Linked DNA regions of Homo sapiens: region 1 is linked to region 2. A link means that fine-mapping ties the variant in region 2 to the plasma level of a protein whose gene starts in the linked region. Region 2 holds a variant in brackets. A gene starts in the other region. All regions are shown on their reverse strands.

Region 1 (2,500 bases), not on the chromosome of region 2:
TTTTTGTATTTTTAGTAGAGATGGGGTTTCATCATGTTGGCCAGGCTGGTCTTGAACTCCTGACCTCAAGTGATCTACCCAACTTGGCCTCCCAAAGTGTTGGGATTACAGGCGCGAGCGAGCCATGGTGCCTGGCCTCAGCCAGATTTCATTTTAAAGGCTCATCCTGGCTGCTGAGGGGGCTGTCAGAGGGCAGGAGTGGAAGCCAGGAGACCATCTGGAGCCATTGCCCTCACTGTCCCTGTGACGTCAGGCCCCTCACCCCTCTAAACCTGTTTATTCACACATATGTGTGACTGTGAGAATCAAATTTGGAATGAGCAGAAATGCACTTTGCAAAGCTGAAAAGTACGCATAAATGCAGGGATTCCCGCCTTGCTAGAAGCGGAGAGTCCTTTGGAAATCTGCTGGGTTAGACCTCTCTGGGGTTCTTGGTTGGGACAGTGCTGGGCCTGAGTCCCTAACTGAACACCTCATATCCGAGAGAGCCCCCTTTCCCTGCCTAGGGTTATAGGAGAGGGCTCAGGGGCTGGGGAGGGGGGCACCTGGCTGAGGCTCCGAGTCTTGAGGGGGAAGATGGGAAAGAAGGGTCCCCTTCCTGGCTTCTGACTCCCCCTGGAGCAATGGTTCTCTTGTGTTGCAGGGAGGGCGACACCTTTGAGCACGGGGGTGACCACCGGACCACCCTGCAGCCATCCAAATGCACACACACAGCTCCTTTCATCCCGTGTCAGGGAGTTCTCTGAAATTTTCTGAAACTCATTCACGAACTCTGGCTTAAAGGCCTCTGAGCTAGAAAGGGGAACTGAAAGGGGACACCTACCTTTTTACCCCACCTTTTTTGTCTGGTCTTTCTAGCATTAACCCCCTAGACACACCTAAGGGCTGATGCCGGGGGGAACCTGTCTTGATTGCTCTGGGCCACATCGAGGGCACCTTCCTGATACTTTTGTTATCTGCCACTGGGGACCCGGTTGTTGAAGGGGGACTTAAGATTTTCTCGAAGGAGGGGTCACTGTGAGGGCCTTTCCTGCCTGCTAGGGGCTTCAGTTTGGGGGCCCCCACTCCCGACCTCCGGGGAAGGGAGGGGTCCCCATCTCCCCCGGGCCTCTCGGGTCTTGGGGTCTCCCCGGGAGGCCGGAGGTTGGGAACCGGGCGCCGGCGAACCGATCAGGCCCCGCCCGCGAAGGTGGTGCAACGCCTGGCCCGGCCCATCCCATCCCGGCCACCCGGGCAGCGGGACCAGGCGTCTGGGGCACAGCATGCGGGGCGTGTGGCCGCCCCCGGTGTCCGCCCTGCTGTCGGCGCTGGGGGTGAGGCGGGCGCGGCCTGGAGGGCGGGGGCGGGAGGCGGGCGGGACCCCTCCCCGCGCGGGCCGCTCCGTGGGCCGGTCTCGGTCTCGGGTGTCCAGGCCGGGGCGGGGCGCGGCGGCGGCGGCGCCAGGGTCGGGGCCGCTTCCCCATTCGGGCGCGAGAGCCATGGAGGCGCTGAGGGAGTCCGTGCTGCATTTGGCCTTGCAGATGTCGACGTACAAGCGGGCCACGCTGGACGAGGAGGACCTGGTGGACTCGCTCTCCGAGGGCGACGCATACCCCAACGGCCTGCAGGTAGGCGCCCTCCGCTCCCTCCCGAGGTCCAGGCGCCCCGGGCCCGGGCATGCGCGCTGCCGCTGCCGCGCCCCCCGCCCCTACCTACCCCGCCTCTTCCCCTCCCTTCCCCTCCCTCGTCCCGGCATCCGGGAGGGGCCGCGCCTCCCCGCAGCTGGAGCTCCGCGCTGAGAAGCCTTCCGGAGCCCACCAGTCTCCCCTCACCTGCCCCCGCCATCCCTAGAGCCTCCCGGCCACCTGCTTCTGGGGCCACAGCCCAGGTGGCAGAGTTGAAAGCACCCCCGAGACCCGAACTGGTCCAGTTCCCTTTCCACAGAAGGCACAGTTTGTGCATGTCCCGGGACTTGCCCAGGCCCTTTACCGGCAGAGTCTACGGCTGTTTCTGTTTTAGCGTGGAAAGCCCTGCATCCCTGGAACCCACTCCCCCAGTCCGGGGCAAACTGGGAAAGTTGGTCACCTTATCCGGGAGGCAGTACCACCCTCTTCCTCTTGCCCTCCCAATACCTGAGTTTCCTGGGGCCAGAAACCTGTTCTCTGCCCCCTCTCCCTGCCCCTTTTCCAGCCTACTAAGGAAGTCCAATTCCTCCCCTCCCCAGGGTCTCCGCCCGTGGGCATCCCATCTGCCCACTCCTGGGGAGGGCCCCACCCCCGTCCCTGCCTTGTAACAGGACATTGAGCAAGGCTGCTTTCTGCCCTCCCGTCCCTGGGGGGCTGCACTGGGACAGTTGTGGCCAAGACCTCAGTGCTGGAGGGGTTTGGAGCCAGCCAGGTGCGTGGGAAGGTGCTGGAAACGCTGCGGACACCCTAGGAGACCCAGTGATCTGGCTCTTGAGAAGCCAGTGTAGAAAGAGGAGCTGGGGCACCCCAATTCTCGGAGGACTTCTGCCAGGTAG
Region 2 (3,004 bases):
TTCCACCCACCCTTGGTGCCTTTACTGATGTGTGCACATGTACACAAGTGTGTAGGGTGGGCACGAGCACGGGGCTACTCACCCAGTTGCACCTCACAGCGTGGCCCAGTCCAGCCTTCATCACAGAAGCAGGAGCCAGAGCCCCCAAGGCCCTCATCACAGCGGCCATGCACAGTGCAGCGGCAGGCTGGGGAGAGGGACAGGCAGGAAGATAAAGATTGGCCCACAAGGGCCAAAGGAATCGGGCCGTGGGGCAGGCAGGGATGGCCCACCTTGACAATGGGGCCCAAAGGCACCAGGAGCACAGAGTTCACAGGCTGTCCCAGCAAAACCTGAACGGCACAGACACTGCCCACTGCCACTCATGCCGTCCATGCACACGCCACGGTCACTACAAGGGCTGCTGGGGCCGCCAGGGCAAGCTGGGGATGGGGTAGGAGAAGTGAGGTGGGGCCAGGGGCTCTCACCAGGACCCCCATATACGTACCTCCAGCCTAGCCCTGCCATCTGTCCCTGACCTATGTCCGCCCACTGCTAAGATCCCTCCAGGCCCATGTCCTGGAGAACATCCAGACCCCCCAGCACTCCTCCCCAGGTTCTGCACCGTCCACACTACCGCCATGCCTCTCCCGAGCACTCCCGCTAGTAAAATCTACTCACCACCCAGAGCTCCCCAGCCCTGGACGCCCCAACACTCTCTCAAGGACAATGGCCAGAGCTGTGCCTTGGCTCTCTTGGGGAACAGAGGAGCTAGTCAACAGTGTCTGCAATGCTCACCTTGGCACTCACTGCCATAGTGACCAGGGCAGCAGCTGGGCTTCCAGGTGGTGGTGACACAATTGCGGTGGCAGCCCCTGCCCAGGCCTTGGGGCCTACCCCAAAGGCTGGGGTGGACCCAGACGCTGCGTAATCCCAAAGAGTGCAGCGGAGGGGACGTCCAGAACTTCGGGTAGAAGCGCCAGCAGGCCTCAGGGCTGCCCTGGGCCAAAGGAGTCAGGCCGCAGTTGGGTGGTTCTGAGTTTGGTGGTCCTTGGGCTCTGCCTGCCCCCACCCCACCACCCCCACTCAGCCCCTAGCCCTGTACCTGCTCCTGTGACCCCTCAGGACAGGGTGGCTCCAGCCCACAGATGCTGCAGGTGTTCTGGAAGGGAGGGAGGCCAATACAGCAAAGTCAGGTGGATGGACACCACAGGCGGGGTGGGCTTCTGCCCGTCTGCCTCTGGCCTCCCTCACCAGTCGCAGGGGCCGGGTCTCAAAGTGGTCACAG[C/T]GAGCACCAAGGCCAGGTGGCTCCAGCAGCTGGTCGATGCCATAGGCCAGGCCACCCTCAAAGGGCAAGTGCCGCTGCACAATGCGAGCATCATCCTCACCCACCATGAGCTCACCCTGCAAGGAGAGAATATGAGGTATGCAAGGGTCGCAGGTGCACTCCAGCTGCTACTGCCAGGGCCCCTGCCTCCTACTCCCTTCATCCAAGCCCTCTCCCCAGACTCACGGCCCGCGTTCGGCTGCAGGAGAAAGAGATGGGGGTCCCATGCATGGTTCGAAGTGGGCCCAGGTTGGGCAGGTCAGATGCCAAGGCCTGAGCAAGTGGAGTCATGGTTGGAGGTGGAAAGGCAGGCTGAGCTGCAGGCAGTGAAGACCAAGGTTGGGGGCTGCACCCACCTCGACATTGCGAATCATGTGGCCCCGCAGAATGGCTGCTAGCTTGTCACGGTGGTCCTCATGGTACAGCCAGGCCTGGCGATCCGGAGGCAGAGCTCGAAAGGCGGCGTCTGTGGGCCACAGCATTGTGAAGGGCCTATGGGATGCCTCTCGAAGCAGGGGCAGGAGGCCGGCCACCTGGTGGGGTGCAGCAAAGATGTGGCAGTCGCTGCCCAGTCAGAGACTAGTTAGCAAAGGCAGGGGGCTGTGCCACAGAGCAGGAAGGGGCTCCACACTCACCCACACTCATCTGTGACCATCCCAGGCAGGCATGTGTGTGCACACATCTCAACTGTGCACACTGCTGTCAGGAATGTGGGCACACATAAGCACACCCATGTGCTCAACCTGGGGTGCACATGCACACAGATGTGGCTTGTGCACACATGAGTTCACACAGGCTCACACGGGACAGTGTGCACACAGGTGGGTATGCACACACAGGTACGCATACACACTTGCACACACTTACACGTGCATGTGTGTCCACAATGACAGGCCCACACGGGAGCAGTACCTTCAGGAGGCCGCTGAAGATCTTGTAACCGAAGCCCTGGGCGGCGGCGGTGACATTTCTCTGAGGAAAGGCTCTCATAAACAGCTAGGCCAGGCGGGAAGGGAGGATCCCAGGCCCCCACCTGCCTGTCTTCCAGCTCCCAGGCCCGTGCTTGTCATACCCTCGGGATGGGAGCATCATCAGGCTCCCAGTGCAGCGCCTCGGGGGGCAGCAGGACACGGTCAATGAAGTGCAGGATGCCGTTCACGGCCTCATGGTCGCTGCTCACCACGCGCGCGAAGTCATTGAGGTATATGCTGCCCTGGGGGCGGGGCACGGGGCTGATGAAGCAGATAGGTGGGGTGCTCGGAAGCTATCGGGGCCTGAGGTGGAGGTTGAACCTGGGTTGGGCAAGTCAGGGTGCAGGCAGTCCCGGTTCTTCGGGACCAGGACGAGGTGGGCGGGGTCTGGGGCGGAGTCAGGGCAGGGGGCGGGGCTCAGTCCTCGGAAGGACACAAGGGCGCTGGGCAGGACAGGCCCACAGCAGTGGGCGAGGCCCAGGTCAAGGGCGGAGTCCCGGGCTGGACTCAGCAGGAGGCGCCCCCTGGCTAGGGGAGGTGGGGTTCTTGACTGCGTGGGCCGTGGGGCCTGGGGCAATGGCGCGCAGGGGCGGGGCGGGGCGGGATGGAGCGGGGCAGGCCAGGGCCAGGGCTCACCTCCCTCTCGCTGAAGCGCAGTGGGTGCCCTGAGAGGGCCGTGGCGTACCCCTGCTCCAGCAGGTCCTCGCTCCGCAGCCGCCGACAGCCA

Direction of the effects. Positions count from the first base shown, and alleles are read on the strand shown. Strength reflects both the effect of a copy and how common the allele is.
For the plasma level of the protein whose gene starts at base 1,214 in region 1, C is the low allele of the variant in region 2 and T is the other (weak association).

The links. A credible set is the group of variants that fine-mapping cannot tell apart. PIP is the chance, under the fine-mapping model, that this variant and not a neighbour inherited with it causes the effect. Protein levels are from antibody-based Olink assays in UK Biobank. Linkage for the fine-mapping came from a reference panel and not from the study's own genotypes, which makes the PIPs less certain.
Region 1: ECE1 starts here. The variant in region 2 is the best candidate, but not a certain one, in a credible set for the plasma level of the ECE1 protein (UK Biobank, PIP 0.51).

What each region holds. Positions count from the first base shown.
Region 1 is chr1:21,289,177-21,291,676 of GRCh38, reverse strand. It overlaps ECE1 (endothelin converting enzyme 1), which reads left to right and starts at 1,214. Exons shown (of 19, transcript NM_001397.3): 1 at 1,214-1,313; 2 at 1,521-1,607. The coding sequence starts at 1,263. RefSeq lists silencers at 1,133-1,312, 1,363-1,532 and an enhancer at 2,209-2,500.
Region 2 is chr3:52,518,779-52,521,782 of GRCh38, reverse strand. It overlaps STAB1 (stabilin 1), which reads right to left. Exons shown (of 69, transcript NM_015136.3): 48 at 2,914-3,004; 49 at 2,379-2,519; 50 at 2,219-2,278; 51 at 1,663-1,839; 52 at 1,493-1,579; 53 at 1,234-1,383; 54 at 1,085-1,141; 55 at 778-979; 56 at 273-422; 57 at 83-187. Among named protein-coding and RNA genes, the nearest start is that of NT5DC2, 14 kb to the left of the region's middle. RefSeq lists enhancers at 1,512-2,118, 2,119-2,727 and a silencer at 2,292-2,435. The variant C/T (reference allele first, on the strand shown) is at 1,268.